2 linked regions of the Homo sapiens genome follow. The protein of the gene in region 1 interacts with the protein of each later gene in a biochemical or structural test. Each region holds a gene or a part of one and is shown on either strand. Other genes may lie near its edges.

The links.
Region 2: the proteins of BAG2 (region 1) and PINK1 form a complex in vitro, tested with the Homo sapiens proteins (2 studies listed by BioGRID).

What each region holds. Positions count from the first base shown.
Region 1 is NC_000006.12:57,178,595-57,182,629, reverse strand, and holds part of BAG2 (BAG family molecular chaperone regulator 2), read right to left. Parts: intron 599-4,035; coding exon 489-598; intron 1-488. UniProt on the Homo sapiens protein: Co-chaperone for HSP70 and HSC70 chaperone proteins. Acts as a nucleotide-exchange factor (NEF) promoting the release of ADP from the HSP70 and HSC70 proteins thereby triggering client/substrate protein release.
Region 2 is NC_000001.11:20,643,458-20,646,957, forward strand, and holds part of PINK1 (serine/threonine-protein kinase PINK1, mitochondrial precursor), read left to right. Parts: intron 1-1,032; coding exon 1,033-1,215; intron 1,216-2,102; coding exon 2,103-2,266; intron 2,267-3,500. UniProt on the Homo sapiens protein: Serine/threonine-protein kinase which acts as a sensor of mitochondrial damage and protects against mitochondrial dysfunction during cellular stress.

The sequences.
Region 1 (4,035 bases):
ATGCCTTTTATTGGTCCTACAAGTTTCCTCATTTTCTCTGCATTTTGTCCCTTCTCTTTATGTTGTACCTCAATTCATCTTTTTTTTTTTTTTTTTTTTGGTCTCTACTTCTCTGCTTCCACTCTCTCACCCTCTTCCTCTGCTTTTTTAATCTCTTGCAGTCCAGTAACTTGTGAGGAACTGAAGTTAGGACTGTGAACCTGGGATAAAACACATGGCCTTACTGCTTGGGGCCAGCTTTTCTGAGCTTGCAGGCTTTTTCCTATCTCTCCTAGCCAGGGGCTTGGGGTAGAGAGCATGCTGGAAGAAATCTCTGAGTAAGTGGCTGCTGTAATGAACTGACAGCTGCAGCTGCTCTCTGTGGCTCACATTAAATGCTGTGGCCTGGTGTACGCATACCAAAAGTCAAGCAAAAATTGACCCACACTTATCATAAACTCTTTAAAGGAGTGTAAAAGATGAGCCCCTTCTGTGGAGATGGCTCTCACCGTCACTGATCTGCCTCATGTCCTGGCTATTTTGGATACTGTGGATCATTTCCAGAAGGATTTCTTTCTCTTGCTCAACAGCAGTTGCTGCTTCTCTCAAAGCTTCAACCCTATAGAAATTGGGAAAACAAAACGGTTATTGTATGCAGGATGTTCTTCCTATTAATTTTCTTTATCTCTCATTCAACCCAAATCAAGTTTAAAGATCACCAAACTTTTCAAAAATTCTTCATTTCTGCTTTAAAATTCTTTCATTTTTCTATACACTTGCCTTTCTCCCATTTTCCTCCCAGCTCATAAGGCAATCATTCTTTCGTGTTTATCTAATTAATACTATTTGTTTTTTACAAGATCTGTATTATTTGTATATTTTGAATTTATATCTCATTCTGTTTTTATTTTTTCACTTAGCATCCAGGTTGCTAGATTTTTGTTTGTTTTTTGTTTTTGAGACAGTCTTGCTTTGTCACCCAGGTTGGAGCACAGTGGCACAATCTCACCGCAGCCTCCACCTCCCGCTTTCAAGTGATTCTCGTGCCTCAGCCTCCAGGCCCGGCTAATTTCTGTAGTTTTAGTAGAGACGGGGTTTCACCATGTTGGCCAGGCTGGTCTCAAACTCCTGGGGTTTCACCATGTTGGCCAGGCTGGTCTCAAACTGCTGGCCTCAAGTGATCTGCCCACCGCAGCCTCCCAAAGTGCTGGGATTACAGGTGTGAGCCACCACACCCAGCCCCCTATGTGTACTTCTAATCAGTTGCTGCTAATTGCTGTATAATACTCCATGTGTATACCTACCTGATTTTCCCTCTCCACTCTCCCAGAGATGGACACTTAGGTTGTCTACCAGCTTCTCATTACTACAAATAACACTTCTATGAATACATCTCCCCTTTGGACCTTGGTGAGGATTTCCTTAGGACATATACCAGGACAGAACTGCTAAGACAAAGGGTATGTGTACTCTGCTTTTGACTTAGTATTATGACTATTCTGCAGAACACCTGTACCTATCCACTCTCCACAGCAAAGCACAGGGGTCCCCATATCCCTACCAACATTCTGCATTTTCCAACTTTCTATTTGCTGCCAGTGTGACAGAAATACACTGATATGTCAGTGTTAACTTGTGTTTTCCTAATAATTTCAGACATCTCTTTGTATCCTTGTTAGCCTATTCATAGACTTTTCCTATTTTGCTTTTCTATTTTTAAACAGGAGTTACTGTTCCCTTGTTGATTTGTATACTCAAGAGATTCTTGTTGGTTACAGACATTGCAACCATCTCTCATCCTCTCATATATGAACCACGTCTGGGATGTCTTGCACTAAAGAGAGACTCTTATTTTGATGCGATCAATTTTTTTTTTTTTTTTGCCTTATGGCGTATGCTTTTGAAGTTTTGACCTAAGGTCTTCCCCCACCCTTTGGTCCTATTTTCCTATATTTTCTCTTATTAACTTTATAGTTCTACCTTCCTTATATTTATGTCTTTAATCCACCTAGCATCAACCCCTGCATGCAGTTAGGTAAGAATGTTTTGTTTTTTTCTTCCAAATAGCCATTTTCCCCAACATTATTTACCAAGCAATCCATCTTTCCCCTAGCGAATGTATATTCGCTATTTATCTCTAAAATCTCTATGCCATGCATTAGTGTATTTAACTGTTCTTATACCAGTGCCAAGTTTTGGGTTTTTTTTTTTAATAGCACTAGCCTTGTACTACACTTTAATATTTGATAGAGCAGGTCCCTCAATCTTCTTTAAAGATAACTTAGCTATTTATGGACTTTTACTTCTCCAACTTTTCCATATAAATTCTAGGGTAAGTTTATTGTGTTTCTCAAAAAACAAGAGAAATTAGACATCTTTATAACATCTCTCTGTTTAAAGGCATGATATATGTCTCTTCATTTATTCAGATCTATAGAGTTCCCATGTATTCTTCATAGTAGTCTTCGTGGATATTGCTGCTATTGTGAATTTGTATTTTCTACTTGATTTTTACTGGTTTGAGAAGTGCTGTTTTTGTAGGTTTATCTTGTCACTGGCAACCTTGATTTACATGTATTCATTTTAGTGTTCAGTCTGTTGATTCTGTTGGTTCTTCTAGGTTAATAATCATATCCATATCATCTGCAGTTTTTATTTCTTCCTTCCCAATCCTATTACTTTTTTTTTTTTAAGAAAAGGTCCTTCAGTACTGTATTAAACAGTGGCAATCATGGGGGTATCTTTGTCTTTTCCCAAATTTAAGGGAAAATCTCTGTGGCTTTTTTGTGTAAAGCCCTGATCAAACTATAGAAGCACTACTTTCCCACTTCACTCAATTGCACACACATGCACTCACACTATACACACACATGAATATACCCAGTCACTAAAAAACTAAGCTGTGGAATAAGGGCAAAATAAAGAAATATATATTGTATATTTAACATGTTCTATACTTCCAGGGAACGTTGTTATTATGAATTACAGTAACTAAGATGCCAACTTTTGCAAAATGAAAGTGACAGACCTATTCCCAGTATTTGGATGGTCTTAGAAATACAAGTTCATGAAAGATCTAATCCTAACTGCTGTCTTAAGTGTGCACAGAAAGAACAACTTCACCAATGTTTTAGCACGTTCAATTCCATAAAAGGATCCTCTCCCTGCCCTAAGCACACACATGCCTTTTCCCCTTCGGTTACCCACCTGTTATACCCCAAAATAGTACTGACAGGCTGTAAAATCACAGGATATCTTTATTCTTCAAGATATTAAATATATGTCAAAGTGTGTTTATAAGAGCCAGTAAAAGCAAAGAACTGGGAAGAATCGCATGTGACAAATTTGGCTAGAGAACACAATCAAAATACAAATATTCTACTAACTAATAGTAATGCAAGTATCAGGCCCTATTCCAGGACCATTCAGTATTTACTTAAACATTTTACATTAGCAATCTCTCAGAAAGATAAACTAGGGCCCAGAACATAGGAAAGAGACGGAGTTGGCACTAAATATTTATGCTAAAAGCACAAACCATGACTCCAATATTTAGACAAATGACACAGGTGAATCATGTGATTGATAAATGAGAAGATGCTGAAAGAAGAGATTAATTTTTCAACACCTTTTCGGTTTGTATTCAATTGTAAGATGATAAGAGAGAACAATGCTATTCTGAAAAGGAAGGTTTCATTTATGAGTTACAGCAGTAAGTTCATGTTCTTAACAAAATAGATAAAAAAGACATTCTAGAAAAAATATAATAAGCCTGTCATATGACGAAAATATTTTATCATTAAATGAGACCAAATAGTTAGGTGGAACTGCTAAAGTTTGTGTTTTAGGGACCCTCCCCCACCCCCATCCCACAAGGCTTTTTTTAATACATAATAGAAATTACCAGGGCATTATCCCTGTGAAAACCAGATTTCATCATTTATAGAACTTCTTATATACATTTTTATGTATACCTTTTTCATTTCATGCAAGGGTAAAATGTCATTCTTCAAAATGTAAAGATCTCAGGGTTTATTTGGCAACATGGGCTTTTCA
Region 2 (3,500 bases), on another chromosome or scaffold:
TCTATGCCAACTACTGTACTAGACTTGGAATAATGGAGAAAATTCAGGCACAGTCCTTGCTCTTAGGGAGCTCACATGATTACTCATTGATGAATATCTCTCTCCCCTGATAGACTGCAAATCCATGAGGACAGGGACTCTGTCTTGTTCTGTGCCATAGTTCCACAGCATTCCAGCATGATGTCTGGTACTCAGCATGCAAACAGTGCGTATTGGTTGAATGAATAATAGTACAGCTAATAGCAGCTGAGAGCTTCCTCTGTGCTAGACACGATTCTAGGTGCCTTCCACACTTTGACAACCTTATGCAGCGTGTTAACACTGCATTCCCCTTGCACCCTGGAGATTGAGCCCAGAGAAGATAAGGACAGAGGGGACACATTCCAAGATAGATCCCCCAGTGGATGCCTGAAGCCACAGATAGTAACAAACCCTATATATACTGTGTTTTTTCCTATACACACATACCTATGGTAAAGTTTAATTTATAAATTAGGCACAGTAAAAAATTAAAGATAACTAATAAAATAGAATAATTATGACAATATACTGTAATAAAAGTTATGTGAATGTGGTCTCTCTCTCTCTCCTCTCTCTAAATATCTTCTTGTACTCACCTATTCTCAAACTGTAGATAACTGAAATTGCAGAAAGCAAAACTGTGGATAAGGTTGGGGCTACTGCAACTCAGCCAAGGACTTACAGTGGCAGACCTGGAATGCAAACCCAGGCAGTCTGATACCAGGGTTTCTCCACCTGTGTTCTGCCACATGGGATGGATAGGATGGATGGGTGTACGGATGGACGGACGGACAGACGGATGGACAAATGGATTGAAGGATGGGTAGGGGAGTCATCAGATGTGTTCTCCAACACCATGTACAGTACCTGGCACATAGCAAATCTATGATAAACATTTGATAGTAAGTGAATAATGAATGTCAGTGCCAGTGTTGGTGTGGCCTTAGGTTATTCTTTCCAGGTGTTGTATCTGATGCTGGCCTCATATGTTTGTCTCACTTGGCTGACTAGAAAATCCAAGAGAGGTCCCAAGCAACTAGCCCCTCACCCCAACATCATCCGGGTTCTCCGCGCCTTCACCTCTTCCGTGCCGCTGCTGCCAGGGGCCCTGGTCGACTACCCTGATGTGCTGCCCTCACGCCTCCACCCTGAAGGCCTGGGCCATGGCCGGACGCTGTTCCTCGTTATGAAGAAGTAAGTGACAGCAGCGCGGCAGGGCCTGGAGCTGATACATCTCCCAAGGGGAGCTGGTTCCTGCCCTCCATGTGCACCTTGATCAGGGGGTTTTGGAGAACAGGGTCATCACCCTTCCGGAGAAGAAAGCCATGCAAAGGGAACATATCTGCCCTGGAGAGCATTTTCCCTGTAGGACGATTTTTCATGGAAACAAACTCTCATCTTCATCCAGAACATACTTGTCACCTAGTCCTTTTGGTCCATTTGACTGTTAACCTTTTCTGTGGCTGGACTTATCTGTTTTTAACATAAAAACCGTTCTCCTTCCTCACCCTCTGTATCCCCTAACTTTGCTATAGTGGGTATTTTATTTTAAGGAAATAATTATCTGCACCATTACTTTGAATATAGGGAGCCCCAACTCTTACTTCCTAATTTGAGGATGGTGAGTGGGAGGGAACAGAAAGGATGCTGGGGAAAAGTGGGAATCAAAGTGCTCCTGGAAGGGGAAGAGGAACGGCCTAACCCTAACAGTGATTAAGGTTATTAGGAGGCCGGGAATGGTGGCTGACGCCTGTAATCCCAGCACTTTGGAAGGCGGAGGTGGGTAGATCACTTGAGGTCAGGAGTTTGAGACCAGCCTGGCCAACATGATGAAACCCTGTATCTACTAAACATACAAAAATTAGCCTGGTGTGGTGGCGGGCACCTATAATCCCAGCTACTCGGGAGGCTGAGGTAGGAGAATTGCTTGAACCTGGAAGGTGGAGGTTGCAGTGAGCCAAGATCGTGCTACTGCACTCCAGCTTGGCGACAGAGTGAGACTCCATCTCAAAAAAAAAAAAAAAAACGTATTGGGAGTCGTCGATGTGTGGTAGCCAGAGGCCCTCTCCCCTCTCCGCCAGCTATCCCTGTACCCTGCGCCAGTACCTTTGTGTGAACACACCCAGCCCCCGCCTCGCCGCCATGATGCTGCTGCAGCTGCTGGAAGGCGTGGACCATCTGGTTCAACAGGGCATCGCGCACAGAGACCTGAAATCCGACAACATCCTTGTGGAGCTGGACCCAGGTAGGAACCTGCTGCACCATCAGAGCTCTCCAGGGGCACTAGAGGGTGGGTCAGGAGCATTTAGGACTGACTCTTCAGGTCCTCTCTGGTTTTGTGTTCTAAGTCATGTCTTTATTTAGCTCCGCACACAAGAGGTTAGCAATCTCTCCCTTAGAACGGGGTTTTTTTTTCTCTCTTTGCAGAGAGACAGCACTTCCCAAGTTCCTTTCTCTAGCCCACTTAAAGAACAAGGACCTCAGTGCTGCAAGTTTTCCTAGGTAAATAAAGAGGCCCGGCACAGTGGCTGACACCTGTAATCCCAACACTTTGGGAGGCTTGCTTGAGGATTGCTTGAGGCCAGCAGTTTGAGACCAGCCTGGGAAACAGAGTGAGATCCCTTCTCTACAAAAAAAAAATATGTTTTAAATTAGCCGGAAAAAAAGTTAGCCAGGCATGGTGGCATGCACCTGTAGCCCCAGCTACTTGGGAGGCTGAGGTCGGAGGATCACTTGAGCCTAGGAGTTAAGAGTCTGCAATGAGCTATGAATGTGCCACTGTACTCCAGCCTGGGCAGCAGAGTGAGATCCTATCTCAAAAAAATAATAAAAAATAATAAAGTAAAAGAGAAGTAGACTTTAGCTCATTATAAAAAATAACTTTCGGCCGGGGGTAGTGGCTCACGCCTGTAATCCCAGCACTTTGAGAGGCTGAGGCGGGCAGATCATGAGGTCAAGAGATCGAGACCATCCTGGCCAACATGGTGAAACCCCATCTCTACTAAAAATACAAAAATTAGCTGGGCATGGTGGCGGGCGCCTGTAATCTCAGCTACTTGGGAAGCTGAGGCAGGAGAATTGCTTGAACCCGGGAGGCGGAGGTTGTAGTGAGCCGAGATTGTGCCACTGCATTCCAGCCTGGCGACAGAGTGAGAGTCCATCTCAAAATAAATTAATTAATTAATTAAATTTTTCAAACAATGAAAGCTGTCCAAATGTAAGCCCAGTTGCCTCTGGAAATGAGTTGCCTACCACTGGAAGCATTCAAGTAGAAGCTGAATGGCCACTTGCCTAGGAAAATTGTAAGGAGATTCATACATCTGATAAATTTTTGAACTAGAAGATTTAAAATAATTGACTAGAGGAACTGGCTTTTATTATTTCTTTATTTATTTACTTATTTATTTATTTATTTATTTGAGACAGAATCTTGCTTTGTTGCCCAGGCTGGAGTGCAGTGGCGCCATCTCAGCTCACTG